3 linked regions of the Homo sapiens genome follow. The protein of the gene in region 2 interacts with the protein of the main gene of each other region in a pairwise test. Each region holds a gene or a part of one and is shown on either strand. Other genes may lie near its edges.

Region 1 (5,136 bases), on a different chromosome or scaffold from region 2:
GGCTCACTGCAGCCTCACTGCAGCCTCCATCTCCATGGCTCAATTGATCCTCCCACCTCAGCCTCCTGAGTAGTTGGGACTACAGGTGTGCCATCATGCCTGACTAATTTTTCTATTTTTTTAGAGACGGAGTCTTGCCATGTTGCCCAGGTTGGTCTCGAACTCCTGGACTCAAGCAATCCTCTCATCTCGGCCTCCCAAAGTGCTGGGATTACAGGTGTAAGCCACCACATCTGGTAACAACTAGCAGTTTTAGCTGACAAAGAAATTCAGCCCTAAATGACCTGGCCTGAAGTTATTTTTGACATGTATCTTCCCCACTGCTGCACAAGGGGCTAAAGGAACTCTCTACCGTGATATCTATGTCAGTGTCTTATGCTAGGATTAAGAGTATTTATATGCACAAGGGCTGTCATTTTTCAAAAACCTTTCTTTCTTCCTCTGTCATTGTTTCCCCTCCAGCTCTCCACCCTGTGCACAAGATACTGTCCTGGTCAAGGAGGGGAGGGAAGGAGTCTGTAAACAGTGCCCGTAAAGAGGCAAGGGCTTGTGAAGTGATGGATGCTGTTGGAACAGAGCAAAGTCTGGCAGGATGGACAGAAAATGTGGGAACCAGGCCTAGGGAGGGTGGGAAGGGTGAGAGGATCAGAATCAAACGCTGGAGAGGGAGGTGAAGAGGCTGGGGCACGATGGAGGTGGGGAAGCCCAAGGATTAGGGGGTAACCCGCACATAGAGGGAAGGAGCCAGGGTTTTCTTGGCCGTATTTTATGTCTGCCTCTCCTTTTATTTTATTTTTTAGTGGCAGACTTCTGAGAAATAAGAAAATAAGGGATGAGTATGGTTCCCATAAGAGTAGGAACTCACAGTACCTTTCATAAGCTTATAATTGATTTTCCCATCTCTGTTTTCCCAAGCCTGACAATTCAGACCTGGAGGCTTTGCGCCTGAGAGGGGGAGGGGAGAGAAACTCTACTAGTGCATCATTCCGGCCACAGCCCAGGCTTATTAGCATTTGAGCAGCAAGAAGGATCTATCCCTAGAAGCTTCCTCCCTGCCTTCTTCCTGGAACTCCCCAAGGAGTGAGGAACTTGGGGAGGGAGGAGATGATATAGTTGAAAGAAGCAATATTAACAGTCAGGGAGTTAAACCCACTACAATCAGCCACATTTCAGAAAAGGTAAACATGCCATTTTTATATAGACTTAGTGCCCACCACCCCCTACCCCCTGCCAAATCCTGGTTATAGACTAACAGTTGCTGTTAGATGCTTATGAAAAATAACCCTGTTTCCCAGGATGAGCCTAACTTGGGCTCACACTAACTTGGGCTGGGTTCATATTGATACATTTCTTCCTTTTTCTCCCCTAATTTTTGTCTGGAGGAAAAAATGTATCTTCGTTCTCTTAATTTTGGGCTAACTTCTACTGCAGGATTTTCTGGCCTGAAGAAAGTTCTTCCATATGAGTGTAGTTGTGAACAAAGCGTAGCTCCAGGAGTTTTGTTCTGCATAGTGGGGAGCGGTGGAAACCACGAGGCTATCGCAGGTGGTGGACTTGGCAGAGAGAGGAGCATATGGGTTTGACAGCGGAAATAGATGTCACCATCTGGTACCCGGGCCCTTCAGATGATTCCATTACCTCCCTGTCCTACCCCATATCTAGGTTGAGTGCGGATGGCATTTGAGATATATTTGCTTAATTTTTTTTTTCTTTTTTAATGACATAGTCCTGGTTTTAAGCAAATGGAGATAAAAGGTGATGTGCTCTGTTAGGGATGTCTGCCAAGGCAAAGCTCACAGAAGACGGGAGAAGTTTCTGAGGATAGACTACCTCTGACATTATTGCTTGGATTGGAGCTGGGCTGTTTCCTGTTAGAAAAGGCAGAATACAAGCCCCAGGGAAGGGGCCAATCGGTGTGCCAGCTACTGGAGCGCAAGGAGGATTCATTCCTGGATGAGAGGTGACTCAGCAGAGAGATTTCCTAGAGACACCTCCTGCCTCCTCCTTGTATGACGTTCAAATCAGACTTCTAGACATACAGCTTGTTAGGTGTTTAGTGATTAACTTTTCTGTGGGACTTGAATGTAAATGCCAGACTATGGCAGTTTGGGATATGGTCAGTTAAGCCAGATATGCTTTGAATAGCTTGTTAGATTTAAACATCTAGAATTTTGATGGCTGTGAACTTTGAGGATCTTACTTGGGATTATGGAATTATAGAGACACAGGGCAAATGAGATAAATGGGGTTCTCTTTTGTAGTTTTGTTGTTGTTTAGTTCATGTGGTCAGGTTATTCAGTGGCATGTCCCATGCAGATTTCTTACATCTGCCATCAGCTATGACATCATGCCTGGATTCCAGTAACAGGATGGCATTTCATCAAATTCTGAAAGTCATCATTATTTGGACTAGAACAACCTATTCCTTAAAATGCCTAGTAAGACGAAATCTGGAAACAACCCCCCAGGTTGGAACTCCTTAACAAAATCAGGGCACCTTTGCTGCAGTTGGCTGCAGTGTCACTTACCTGGAGAAGGCGCCTTGTTCACCCCAGGATGACCTGTCTGTGGGTTAAAAAACGGTGCTGTCCCCTTTGAGTCAGAATGGTGCTGGCCATTCCCCTGTCGTCTTTTCCTGCCAAGTTGGATTCAGTGCTGCATGCTGGATTTCTGGCATGCTGGAGTTAGTGATGGGGCAAAGATATGTTTGGAATTGGATGAAACTCTGGACACCTCTTCAGCTCCACTGTTTAGACAGCAGCTGGCTGGAGTGGCCTCCCAGTCAGTATCATCCATTCTCGAGACTAGAGGCAATCCCACTTCTGCTGATGGTCACCCAGAATTCCATCTCCCCACCTCCTCTCCAGATCCATGAGAAAGAAGAGGAAGAGTTCAATGAGAAGAGTGAAAATGATTCCGGTATCAACGAGGAGCCTCTGCTCACAGCAGATCAGGTATAAGTATCTCTCCAGGTTATCGGGACCTTTTGTTCTTTTGATGGAGAAAAAGTCCAAGAGAACACACTTGCCACATCCATTTAAGGCAGAAGAAAGATATGTGGTCATGTGGTGCCTGTGCTCATGACTCAGAGTATTTTTTGTTTCTTTTTTTTCTTTATATATATATACTTTTGAGACAGAGTCTTGCTCTGTTGCCCAGGCTGGAGTGCAGTGGCGTGATCTTGGCTCATTGCAACCTCTGCCTCCCGGATTCAAGTGACTTTCCTGCCTCAGCCTCCCGAGTAGCTGGGACTACAGGCATGCACCACCATGCCTGGCTAATTCTTATAAAAAATTTTTTGGTAGAGATGTGATTTCACCATGTTGGCCAGGCTGGTCTCAAACTCCTAACCTCAAGTGATCTGCCCACCTCAACCTCCCAAAGTGCTGGGATTATAGGCATGAGCCACTGTGCCTGACCTTTTTTTTTTTTCATTTTGAGACAGGGTCTCACTTTGTCACCCAGGCCAGAGTGCAGTGGCAAAATCAGGGTTCACTATAGCCTCAACCTCCTTGGCTCAAGCGATCCTCCCGCCTCAGGCCCCTAAGTAGCTGGGACTACAGGCATGCATCACTATGCCCAGCTAATTTTCTGTACTTTTAGTGGAGATGAGGTTTCACCATGCTGCCCAGGCTGGTCTCAAACTCCTGGACTCAAGCAGTCCACCCGCCTTGGCCTCCCAAAGTGCTGGGATTACAGGCATGAGCCACGGTGACTGTCCAACTCAGAGTATTTTTGATAAGGGATTTCATCTCTCTTTCTGCCTCAGGTTGCCCACCTGCAGTGAACATGAATGTCATTCTTGACACTTGGGATAGTTGGGGTCAGTCTCTGATAGGAGCCAGAGACAGGCATAGTGTTTAGTAGCTACAATCCTGCTAAGCCTTCTTATTGAAATTCGTTGTACTCGGAGTCAAGACACTCAAACAAGGGTCCCAAATACCTGTTTTCCCAAAAAGAGAAGTGACAGATGAGGCTTTTGTGTGATGGATATTTTCTTACATTTCATAGAACACTCAAAATTTTGGGCCTTCCGAAAGGAGTCTTAGAGCCACTTCGACTTTGTGAAAAAAGATAGAGTGCTTCGCATTCAATTGAGATCATCATAGCTTTAATAATTTATTACTTAGAGAGGATAATGTTCAGTTTCTGGATTCCTTATTTAATGTTTTAGTCAACAAATATTTATGGGTGCTTATTTTGAGCTAAACACTACATAAGTTTCCACAAAGTCTTTCTGCAAAGCTCCACTGGCAGCCTTCGGTGCCAGAAAGTGCTTTTTTAGCAGCAATGGTGCTTTTTCATATCTGTGATAGAAAGGTGGGAATTGAAACACGTGAGGATTAGGAGACTGAAGAGAACCAGATTTTTAAAAATAGGGGCTAATAGCTATTCTTGTGACTTGTAGGAGGATCTACAATTCAATGATATGAACTCAATTATAACTCCTCTTAGAGAAAAGGACATTCAGCCATAAGACCCTGACAGGGACTTGTGTCATTTGGTTGCATTCTGTAAAATGGCTTTCAGTAGTCAAAGACTGGGTATTTCCTAAGTTTGTGAGTAGAGGTGAAAAGGTTTGGGAATAAGAATGGAAATTATTCTAAAGGAGGAGACCCTGAAACCCCTTACCTTTGGTCCAGCCCACTGTGAAGAAACCACCTCAAAGAGTACAATGCTGGCCTCGGGGACTTTAGTCCATCCATGGAGAACAGACAAAGGTGAAGGTTGGGACAAAACTCATCTAAAGACCTGCTTTCAGCAGCAGTCTTCTTTATTTGTAAATAATTAATGTACAAAGTAAGTCACTCTTTTTTTTGTTGTTGTTGTTGAAACAGGATCTGGCTCTATTGCCCAGGCTGGAGTCCAGTGGCCCAGTCTCGGTTCACTGCAACCTCTACCTCTTGGGCTCAAGCCATCCTCCCACCTCAACCTCCCAAGTAACATGGACTACAGACACACGTCACCACAACTGGCTAATTTTTCTGCTTTTTGCAGAGATGGGGTTTCGCCATGTTGCTCAGGCTGGTCTTGAACTCCTGAGCTCAAGTGATCCACCTGCCTCGGCTTCCCAAAGTGCTGGGATTACAGGCATGAGACACCATGCCCAGCTAGTAATTCACTTTTGTTCCTTTT
Region 2 (5,183 bases):
TAGGAGGATCTTTGAAGAGTTCTAAAAGGCAGGCCAATATACCTTCTTGTTAATTTTCCCTTTTGTTTACAGGCATGCATGTAGGGAATACCGGATTCATAAAGAGCTGGATCATCCCAGAATAGTTAAGCTGTATGATTACTTTTCACTGGATACTGACTCGTAAGTGCTGTGCTGTTTTACCTTAACAGTTATATTATTTTCTTGCAATGCTGATTGTTCATGGAATAGAGCTGAACTCTGGGTCCAGGACATACCCTCTGAGGGAACCAAGTAATTTGTGACAAATGATCAAACATAAATTCAGATTTGGATCAGCAAGAAACCTCTAGGCCAAAGGACATGTGCACTTGTGTGCCAGTAAATGTTTAACAGCCAGCTTGGTATGAAGAGAGACAGGGCTAATTTATAGTGTTTGCCAGTTTCCGTGGTGTAGATATTCCTCCTGTGTCTAATTTTGATGTACCACCTGTTTATTTTTGTTTTTTTTTAAACATCTTAATTATAATTCACATACTGTATGATTCACACATGTAAAATATACAGTTTAGTGGTTTGTAGCATATTCATAGATACATGCAACCACCAGAGGCAATTTTAGAATTTTTTCACCATCTCAAACCCCATCATACCTTTTACTACTATTCATCTATTCCACCATTCCATCCCTCTGCCCTAGCCCTAATCTGTCTGTTTTATCTTTATAGATTTCCTATTCTGGACCCTCATATGCATGGAATCATATAGTATGTGGACTTTTATTACTGGCTTCTTTCACTTACCATGGTGTTGTCAAATTTCATCCTTGTAGCCTGTGTCAGTACTTCATTCCTTTTTATGGCAAAATAATATTCCATTGTGTGGATATACCACATTTTGCTTATAACGGTTTGATAACCAGCTCACAAAATTCTTGAAAATTTAAGTCAGCTCTTGGAAACTGGCATGAGTTGGTGCCAGCATGCCACTGACGTGCACTAGTGAGTGTAGACTGTTCAAGAGAGTTTCTGCTCACCCCAGAGACTCTTATGAACATTGACAGACCTTTTTAAAAAGTACTGGCCGTGTGATTTTATCCTAGACTGAGATAAGAAATGTGGCACTAATGAAGACAAGGCTCAGTGCTACATGTTGAAATACAGGCTCATAGGCTTATAGGATGTTAGAATAGGAAGGGATCTCAGAGTCCAGCCTTTTCATTTTATAGGTGGATTTTGAGGACCAGAGAAGTTAAATAACTTGTCTGAGATAGTTATTAATTGTGGGCATTGCTATATTTTGTTACTTGGTATAGGTAACCTCCCGTGCCTCTGGGTTTATCCAGCAGTTTAGCTGGATATATCTCAGCATTTGGAAATGTTTCTCTGTAGAAGTCTGAACTGAATCAGAATATACCCTAGGTCTAGACTTCAGGTTCCCTCAGCCTCCCAGGGTAATTCTAGGAGTTTTGGTCTGTTCTAGCCAACAGTCTCAGATATGGCTGTGCAGACAGCTGCCTTACATTTAGAAATAACCCCAAAGAGGACTATAATTCCCTTTGGAAACATGACCTGGGCCATTCTCTCAGGGATTTCTTCTCATTTGGGTAGCCCTGGCACTGAGCTTAGCCATGTGTGTTTCACGTGGAGTGGAATTTTTTTAAAAAGATCTAGTTAGAAGGCAGGATTGGGAAACAAGGGGCGGGGCATGACATTACTGTTTTGCCTTGAGCAAATTTCTTGAATACTAGGTAGACCCCCCTCTCTGAACTATTAAGTTCAAGAACTATTTCAAAGTTAAATATCAGGCTCAAATTATCTGCTGTTTTGAATTGTATACACACTTTTAACTAATGTGAGAAATTGAGTTGGTTCTATACTATTCTTGAGTTGATTACTTTGTTCTTCCTATTGTATGTATGATGAATTTTCACCAAAAATAAGTCAGACCATGATTTTTAGAACATCTTCTGAGAATTGTTTGGGTATTAAAAGTGAGGCTTTATTTTCTTTTCTTTCTTTTGTTTTGGTTGTTTTCCTTTTTTTTTTCCTGAGATGGAGTCTCACTCTGTTGCCCAGGCTGGAGTTCAGTGGTGCGATCTTGGCTCACTGCAACCTCCACCTCCCAGGTTCAAGCGATTCTCCTACCTCAGCCTCCCATGTAGCTAGGATTACAGATGCACGCCACCATGCCTGGCTAATTTTTGTATTTTTAGTAGAGACAGGGTTTCACCGTGCTGGGCAGGCTGGTCTTGAACTCTTGACCTTGTGATCCGCCCGCCTGGGCCTCCCAAAGTCCTGGGATTACAGGCTTGAGCCACCGCGCCTGGCTGAAAGTGAGGCTTTATTTTCAACTTGCATTTGGGTGAAAGAATCATTCCATTGAGCATGAGTCTATATTTCAGATTTCAGAATCTCAGATCAGAGGAATCTATAAATTTCAGACATTTCTTTTTTTAATTTTATTTTATTTGAGATGGAGTCTTGCTCTGTTGCCCAGGCAGTAGTGCAGTGGCATGATCTTGGCTCACTGCAACCTCCACCTCATGGGTTCAAGCAATTCTCCTGCCTCAGCCTCCCAAGTAGCTGGGATTACAGGCATGCGCCACCATACCTGGCCAATTTTTTGTATTTTTAGTAGAGACAGAGTTTCACTATGTTGGCCAGGCTGGTCTCAAACTCCTGGCCTCAAGTGATCCACCCATCTCTGCCTCCCAAATTGCTGGGATTACAGCAGACATTTGTTTTCAAATAGGGTGTTAGCATGCCCTGCCATGTTTCTTAAGATACATAAGATATTGTTCAGTTTGTGGTGTCCACAGGACCATGTGTGTCCATGTTCAATTGCAGTGCTTTATGAAGGCCTCAAATTGCTCAGTGGCCCATAGCGCTAGACCTGAGTCTGTTTGCTCTCAGTTCTGTTCCTCGCCCTTTCGCTGCTCTGTATCTTTGGGGGGTTAGCCCGTGTAGGCTGTGTTTATCAGGCCCATGTGTCCATTGGTGTTCTGTTGGTTTCAGCCAATGGGAAGGCAGAAATGGGAGGGGGTCTCCACCTCCTCTCCCTCCCCGCAATTCTAGTTTCCCCTGATGACCCTGGGTTCTGGTTTCACCATCTCCTCCCTTCTGGCCTGCTTGCCTGAGGGTGCTAATGGCTTCCTGCTGTAGATGATCTCTAGGGTGCCTCACTGACCAGTTTGTCTTCTCAGCTCTTCCATCATCTGTATGATCAGTTCCCTGAATTAAAGTCTCTCTGTTTTAAATGTTCAGGTGGTTTTTTTTTCCAGGCTAAACTGACTGATACACCCACATTGTCACAACTTAGAAAACTTCAAAACGTATTCATCCCTCAGGAATATTCAAACAGTTCAGGACACCTTACTTCAGAGTATAATGCCTTGGAAGATAGACACGTGACCTGTGATGCCACCAATGGCATATGGTTTTATGTATGGGTCTGTATGACATATTGACATAAGGGAAGGAAAGAGAACCCACATACTTTTGTTAGAACCATAGATACTATACTTTACAAGCTCTTTTACACCTTGTGTTTAAGAGAAATTGTAGTGCAGTATTGTGCCAAGCTGTCAGAAGACGTAGTATGCAGTCAGTTTTTGGGACGTGGGCAAACTCTAGATTCTTACTCATTGCCAGCACTCAGGGTTATATAAAATGTTTGCAGTGCGAATTGTGTACCTAGCCAAAATTGCGCCACTGCACTCCAGCCTAGGCAGCAGAGTGAGACGGAGTCTCAAAAAAAAAAAGAGAGAATTGTGTACTTGATCACATTCTGGTTGTTTAGACGTGGATGTGTGGCATGGGTGTGTAAAGGAGCCCCTTCCAAGAAGATACCTAGCTTAAATACATTATAGTTCTTATCAGTATTCTTATAGTCTAGACTCAAGAAGAGGTCTGCCATGGGTGAACTTGAGCACAACAGATTCCAACATTGAGGGTGTGGAAACTCTTCAAGAGAATAAGCAGTTTCTTACCAGAAACCCCTCAGCTAATACTGAATAAACAATTGAAGAGTATTTTAAGGAACAAAGAAGAAAGGAGTGAGAAGCTGATGACCTGAAGTTTTCACATGGGACTAATTTAGGTAGTGTTAATCTGCTTGCTCTTATTCCATGGTTAAATATTGGTTTATTTGTCTTTAGGTTTTGTACAGTATTAGAATACTGTGAGGGAAATGATCTGGACTTCTACCTGAAACAGCACAAATTAATGTCGGAGAAAGAGGCCCGGTCCATTATCATGCAGATTGTGAATGCTTTAAAGTACTTAAATGAAATAAAACCTCCCATCATACACTATGACCTCAAACCAGGTATGTCTAACTTTTAGGAGACAGTATTAGTGGGTTTTCTTTGGTCTTATAAGTGACTTTTAATTTGATAAAGTTAGAGAATTTCACAGCAGCCAAGAAAGGCTAATAACATCTGACTTTTGATTGCCTGGGTAGGTGTGGGAAAAAAGAGTCCTGGCCAAGCAGCACTGGGTTTAGGAGGGCGTGTTGGATTAAATACTCTGGAGAAACAATACCTTTATCTTTGGAGCCAGGGCAGTTCATGATGTAAGTCTCATTAAGAAAGAACTGTTGCAGCAAGTTCAGTTTTGTTTTTTTCCCATGACTCCTACTACATAACAGTCCCTCTGCTTCAGGTCTCTTTGATAAGAGCCCCCAAATTAATAACTTATTTTTACTTATATGCCTCCCATTTCAATAAATTTCAAGCAGAATTTTTCATCTTTTTGTATGGTTATTATCTAGCTTTGATGTTCATCAGCAAAGAGTACAGGGCAGCTAGAGTCCTTACCTCTATTTTTTATTGTTATCTTCAGCTGTGTTTTAGAAATCTGCATAGTTCTATAGACAACTCTAACAGCTTAGCTTGGGCATTAGGAAGATGGTCCACATTTACCTTCTGGTGTTGCAAAATTGTAAACTTTGCTTTACTCTTCTGGTAGGTGCATATTGCGTCTCATTGACTATTCTCTAATGTTCTAATACAATTCAGATGACTAAAACATTAATTATGATGAAGAAATTTTTTAAAAGATGGCTATTTTGTGAATGAATTTTCCATAACTGAATTCAACACTTTCCTGCAATGGGAGCTGTAGGCGGTGCTGTGGTGCTAGCTTTGGTTTCCTTACATGGTTTCTTTGATTCCTCCCCCACACCCCAAGTGCTGTTCTAAA
Region 3 (5,136 bases), on a different chromosome or scaffold from region 2:
TGGCTAACATGATGAAACCCCATCTCTACTAAAAAGACCAGGCGCGGTGGCTCATGCCTGTAATCCCAGCAATTCGGGAGGCTGAGGCGGGCGGATCACCCGAGGTCAGGAGTTCGAGCTCAGCCTGACCAACATGGAGAAACCCCGTCTCTACTAAAAATACAAAACTAGCTGGGCGTGGTGGCACGTGCCTGTAATCCCAACTACTAGGGAGGCTGAGGCAGGAGAATCGCTTGAACCCGGGAGGCGGAGGTTGCAGTGAGCCGAGATTACGCCATTGCACTCCAGCCTGGGCAACAAGAGTGAAACTCCGTCTCAAAAAAAACAAAAAAACAAAAACAAAAAAAATTAGCCGGGCGTGGTGGCATGCATCTGTAGTCCCAGCTAGTCTGGAGGCTGAGGCAGGAGAATCACTTGAACCTGAGAGGCAGAGGTTGCAGTGAGCCGAGATCACGCCACTGCACTCCAGCCGGGGTGACAGAGCGAGACTCCGTCTCAAAAAAAAAAAAAATTAGCTGGGCGTGGTGGCAGGCGCCTGTAGTTCCAGCTACTTGGGAGGCTGAGGCAGGAGAATGGCATGAACCTGGGAGACAGAGCTTGCAGTGAGCCGAGATTGCGCCACTGCACTCCAGCCTGGGCGACAGAGCAAGACTCCGTCTCAAGAAAAAAAAAAAGATTTTGCCTCAGGCCAAACCTGCTTGGCTTTGGATAAGACATGGCAGTCTTCTTTGGTTAGGAATACTTCAAGATAACCACATTGATGAGGTGGGTGAGACTGAGAACTGAACAAGTTTTCTTCCCAGCTATTCCACAGCTTCCCCTCTCTGGGGGTCCCTCCGTGTTTTTTCTTCATAGCTTGCTATGGTTCTCTCTTCCTTCTCTTCCTGGAGAAAGCAGTATGTGTGAAAAGAAAGTAGTGATCAGGTGAAATGAATTCAACATGACATGCAGGCAGGGTTGGAGTAGGAACTGAACTCTTGGTATAAAATAGTAAATGATGGCTGGGCATGGTGGCTCACGCCTGTAATTCCAGCACTTTGGGAGGCCCAGGCGGGCAGATCACGAGGTCAGGAGTTCGAGACCAGCCAGGCCAACATGGTGAAACCCCGTCTCTACTAAAAATACAAAAATTAGCTGGGTGTGGAGGCACGCACCTGTAATCCCAGCTACTTGGGAGGCTGAGGCAGGAGAATCACTTGAGCCCGGGAGGTGGAGGTTGCAGTGAGCCAAGATCTCATCATTGTACTCCAGCCTGGGCAACAAGAGTGAAACTCCATCTCAGAAAAAAAAAAATAGTAAATGATGATAATTGCCTGCATCTATTGAGAGCTTAGTATCTCCCAGGCACTATACTAAATGTCCAACCTACATTGAGTAATTTAATCTTTACGTCAACCTTAGAGGTAGATATCATCTTCAGTTGACAGATAGGGTATAGAGGAGTCAAGTCACCTGCATAAAGTCACAGAGCTAGTAAATAAAACCAGGATCTGAATCCTTTAATCTGGCCCATGATCTGAAACTTTACACTGTACCACATGATAGCTGCCATTTTTTTGAGCCCCTACAATGCGCCAGGCACTATACTAGTACTTTATAGACCTCTCAACAGACATTCCATTTTACAAATGAGGAAACTGAGGTTTAAAAATTCGAAGTAAATTGCCAAGGTCCTCATGGTAGAACTGGGATTTGAACTTAGATCTTTTCAACTTCAAAACATATGTTTTTTACCGTGGTATGCTGACTAGCTATATGCATGAATAAGGACTTCCTTTTAACATCTGAGTTTGGAAATGAGTATTTTCTTAACTTCTAATTCCTTGTTTAAAAATTGTATAAAATGGCTAGGTGCAGTGGCTCATGCCTGTAATCCCAGCACTTTGGGAGGCTGAGGCAGGAGGCTCACCTGAGGTCAGGAGTTTGAGACCAGCCTGACCAACATGGAGAAACCCTGTCTCTACTAAAAATACAAAATTAGCCGGCCGTGGTGGCACATGCCTGTAATCAGAGCTACTGAGGAGGCTGAGGCAGGAGAATCTCTTGAACCCAGGAGGCGGAAGTTGCCATGAGCCAAGATCATGCCATTGCATTCCAGCCTGGGCAACAAGAGGGAAACTCCATCTCAAAAAAAAAAATTGTATGAAATATCCCTAAGTATAGCCAAGGAGATAATTCATTTAAAGAAAACCCCATCAAGGAAAAGTAAGACATATTTGAAACCCTTTCATCTAGCACATAGCAGGCACTCAGCATGTAGAGTCAAATAATCTACTTTTTTCCATCTTTATCATGCAGGAGAAGTCATTAGCTCTCTTACCATTTTTTCCTTTAGCCCTTTAACAAACATTTATTTTTCTTCTTCTTGTTTCTCTCTCTCTTTCTTCTAAGCTACCTGGCCTATCGAAACTTTATGATTGACACTTACCGACTGAACCCCCAAGAGTATCTTACCTCTACCGCCTGCCGCCGAAACCTAGCGGGTGATGTCTGTGCCATCATGAGGTGGGTCTTGTGGCTGAGGGGAAGGGGGTACATGAGGATGCCTGCCTATGGATGTGTTTTGGCAACAGTAGAGATGCCAGCAAGGAACACAGAGGAGCAGACAGAAAAAAGCACCTCTAGAGAAAGGTGAAGTACAGGTTTGGGGAATGAATGACTTGAGGGATTAGCAATGGCATTCTCTGAAGTGTAGAATATAGGACAAAGAAGGAGCATGTCTGTAATTGAAAGATACTGGTTCAGGCCAGGTGTGGTGGCTCATGCCTATAATCCAAACATTTTGGGAGACCAAGGTGGGAGGATTGCTGGAGCCCAGAAGTTCGAGACCAGCCTGGACAAAATGGCAAAACCCCATCTCTAGAGAAAATGCAAAAAAATTAGCTAGGCATGGTGGCACGTGCCTGTGGTCTTAGTGACTCAGGAGGCTGAGGTGGGAGGATCCCCTGAGCCCTGGAGGTGGAGGCTGCAGTGAGCGGTGATCACACCACTGCACTTCAGTCTCTCTTAGGGAAAAAAAGAAAGAAACTGGTTCAGTTTTACTAGCTATTCAGGAAGAAATGTTCGGTAGGTAGGTAGATATAGAGATTGGCCCAGGCTGAAGATGTAGACTTGGGTGTCACTGGCATTTAGGTGATAAATGAACAACTGGAGTAGGTGAGATTTCTTAAGGAGTACAATGAACAGAGGAAAAGGCCGGGGTTGGGTGGGGAGGGGGTTTATGCCCCTTCTACCCCCCACTTTTCCTCTTCCTCGTGCACCTTTCTGGCTATCCGTGTGACCCTGTCTCTGCCTCTCTCTGCACAGGGTCCATGCCTTCCTAGAACAGTGGGGTCTTATTAACTACCAGGTGGATGCTGAGAGTCGACCAACCCCAATGGGGCCTCCGCCTACCTCTCACTTCCATGTCTTGGCTGACACACCATCAGGGCTGGTGCCTCTGCAGCCCAAGACACCTCAGGTAGGGTGAGGTGCTATGGGGATGGGGCGGGTTGGGAAGATTGGGCTTCTTTGAACTTTTCTTTTTCTGGTTTTTAGGGTAATGGTTCAGGAGTGTTTTGAGGCTTCTTCCTTTTCCATGGGATGCAAAGGGTCACGGGAATCAGCCCCATGTGTTTAGCATCCTCTCTCAGCCTTTGTACCTAAGGCTGTAATTGCTGAGGGAGAAGAGATTATCCTTTTACTCAAGGAGTAGACAGGCTAATGTAGGGGAGTCAATAGAGAAAAATGGCTTAAAATTAACTTGCATGAAATTTTTAAACTTTGTCATCTTTGCCACATTTTTTCATTTTTGCCTCATAATTATCATCTTCATTTTTTTTTCCATTTCCACTTCATCCATTACAAAAATTAGGAAGAAGGTTATGTGGCTTGCCCAAGGTCACAGAGTACCAAATCTAGGATTAGAACCTAATTGTCCAGCTCCTAAGAGAACCTATAAAGATAATGTGAATATGTATGGATATCATGCCAACGACATGTCTTATTAATCATGAAGGGAACATGGAACAGTGGCATGAGTGCCCCCAGAGCTTGTGGGCCGCCCAGCATATGGTCTTGAGGCCTCCAGGGCCTTGGCCTGGTCATTTCCTGCCCAGCCTCCATGACGCCAAGCTCTGTCCCCCAGGGCCGCCAGGTTGATGCTGATACCAAGGCTGGGCGAAAGGGCAAAGAGCTGGATGACCTGGTGCCAGAGACGGCTAAGGGCAAGCCAGAGCTGGTAGGTGGGGTGCAGACCCTGCTGGGCTGCTCATTTTCCCCTTTATTGGGGGGCCCCTGCCCGGGAAGAAGAGACATGAGAGCAGAGGAACTACAGCAGTAAGGGAGGAAGTCCCACCCAGGGGTGTCCCTGGCTTTGGGAAAGAAGCTCCTTCTGTCTGTTTTTTCTCTCTGTCAGCCCCTGGCTCCCGGTGGTCACTTGTACTCACCTGTTTCTTTCCCTCCACAAATAGCAGACCTCTGCTTCCCAACAAATGCTCAACTTTCCTGACAAAGGCAAAGAGAAACCAACAGACATGCAAAACTTTGGGCTGCGCACAGACATGTACACAAAAAAGAATGTTCCCTCCAAGGTAGGAGGTGCGGGCCGACTCTAGGGGTAGAGAATGTTCGCTCCTCAGAGGTCACAGGCTCCTTTCTTCTCACCTGCCTGTGTTTCCCCTGCAGAGCAAGGCTGCAGCCAGTGCCACTCGTGAGTGGACAGAACAGGAAACCCTGCTTCTCCTGGAGGTAATTGGGGCAAAGAAAAGAGAGTTTTTCTCTGAAAACAGAAGTGGGCTCCGTGTAGAGGCTCACGCCTGTAATCCCAGCACTTTGGGAGGCCAAGGCAGGAGGATCACTTGAGTCCAGGAGTTCGAGATGAACCTGGGCAACATAGTGAGACTCCGTCTCTACGAAAAATTTTAAAAATTAGCCAGGTGTGGTGGCACACACCTGTGGTCCCAGCTACTCAGGAGGCTAAGTGGGAGGATTGCTTGAGCCTAGGAGGTCAAGGCTCCAGTGAGCTTCAGGACCAGCTCCAGGCTGGGGATTTGGGCCATTTCATTAACTTCATATCCTTTCTTAGTGCTACTTCAAGATCCCCCTTGGACCTAGCAGAGTACACAAATACCAGAACATAGAGAACTTTGAAACCAG

Evidence for each region.
Region 1: the proteins of TLK2 (region 2) and FEZ1 interact in a two-hybrid assay, tested with the Homo sapiens proteins (one study listed by BioGRID).
Region 3: the proteins of TLK2 (region 2) and SMARCC2 interact in binary tests that used the Homo sapiens proteins (3 or more experiments, as listed by UniProt).

Annotation. Positions count from the first base shown.
Region 1 is NC_000011.10:125,461,302-125,466,437, reverse strand, and holds part of FEZ1 (fasciculation and elongation protein zeta-1), read left to right. Parts: intron 1-2,867; coding exon 2,868-2,954; intron 2,955-5,136. UniProt on the Homo sapiens protein: May be involved in axonal outgrowth as component of the network of molecules that regulate cellular morphology and axon guidance machinery.
Region 2 is NC_000017.11:62,596,513-62,601,695, forward strand, and holds part of TLK2 (serine/threonine-protein kinase tousled-like 2), read left to right. Parts: intron 1-72; coding exon 73-162; intron 163-4,138; coding exon 4,139-4,308; intron 4,309-5,183. UniProt on the Homo sapiens protein: Serine/threonine-protein kinase involved in the process of chromatin assembly and probably also DNA replication, transcription, repair, and chromosome segregation. Phosphorylates the chromatin assembly factors ASF1A and ASF1B.
Region 3 is NC_000012.12:56,172,020-56,177,155, reverse strand, and holds part of SMARCC2 (SWI/SNF complex subunit SMARCC2), read left to right. Parts: intron 1-2,391; coding exon 2,392-2,505; intron 2,506-3,306; coding exon 3,307-3,460; intron 3,461-4,126; coding exon 4,127-4,219; intron 4,220-4,451; coding exon 4,452-4,571; intron 4,572-4,665; coding exon 4,666-4,728; intron 4,729-5,136. UniProt on the Homo sapiens protein: Involved in transcriptional activation and repression of select genes by chromatin remodeling (alteration of DNA-nucleosome topology).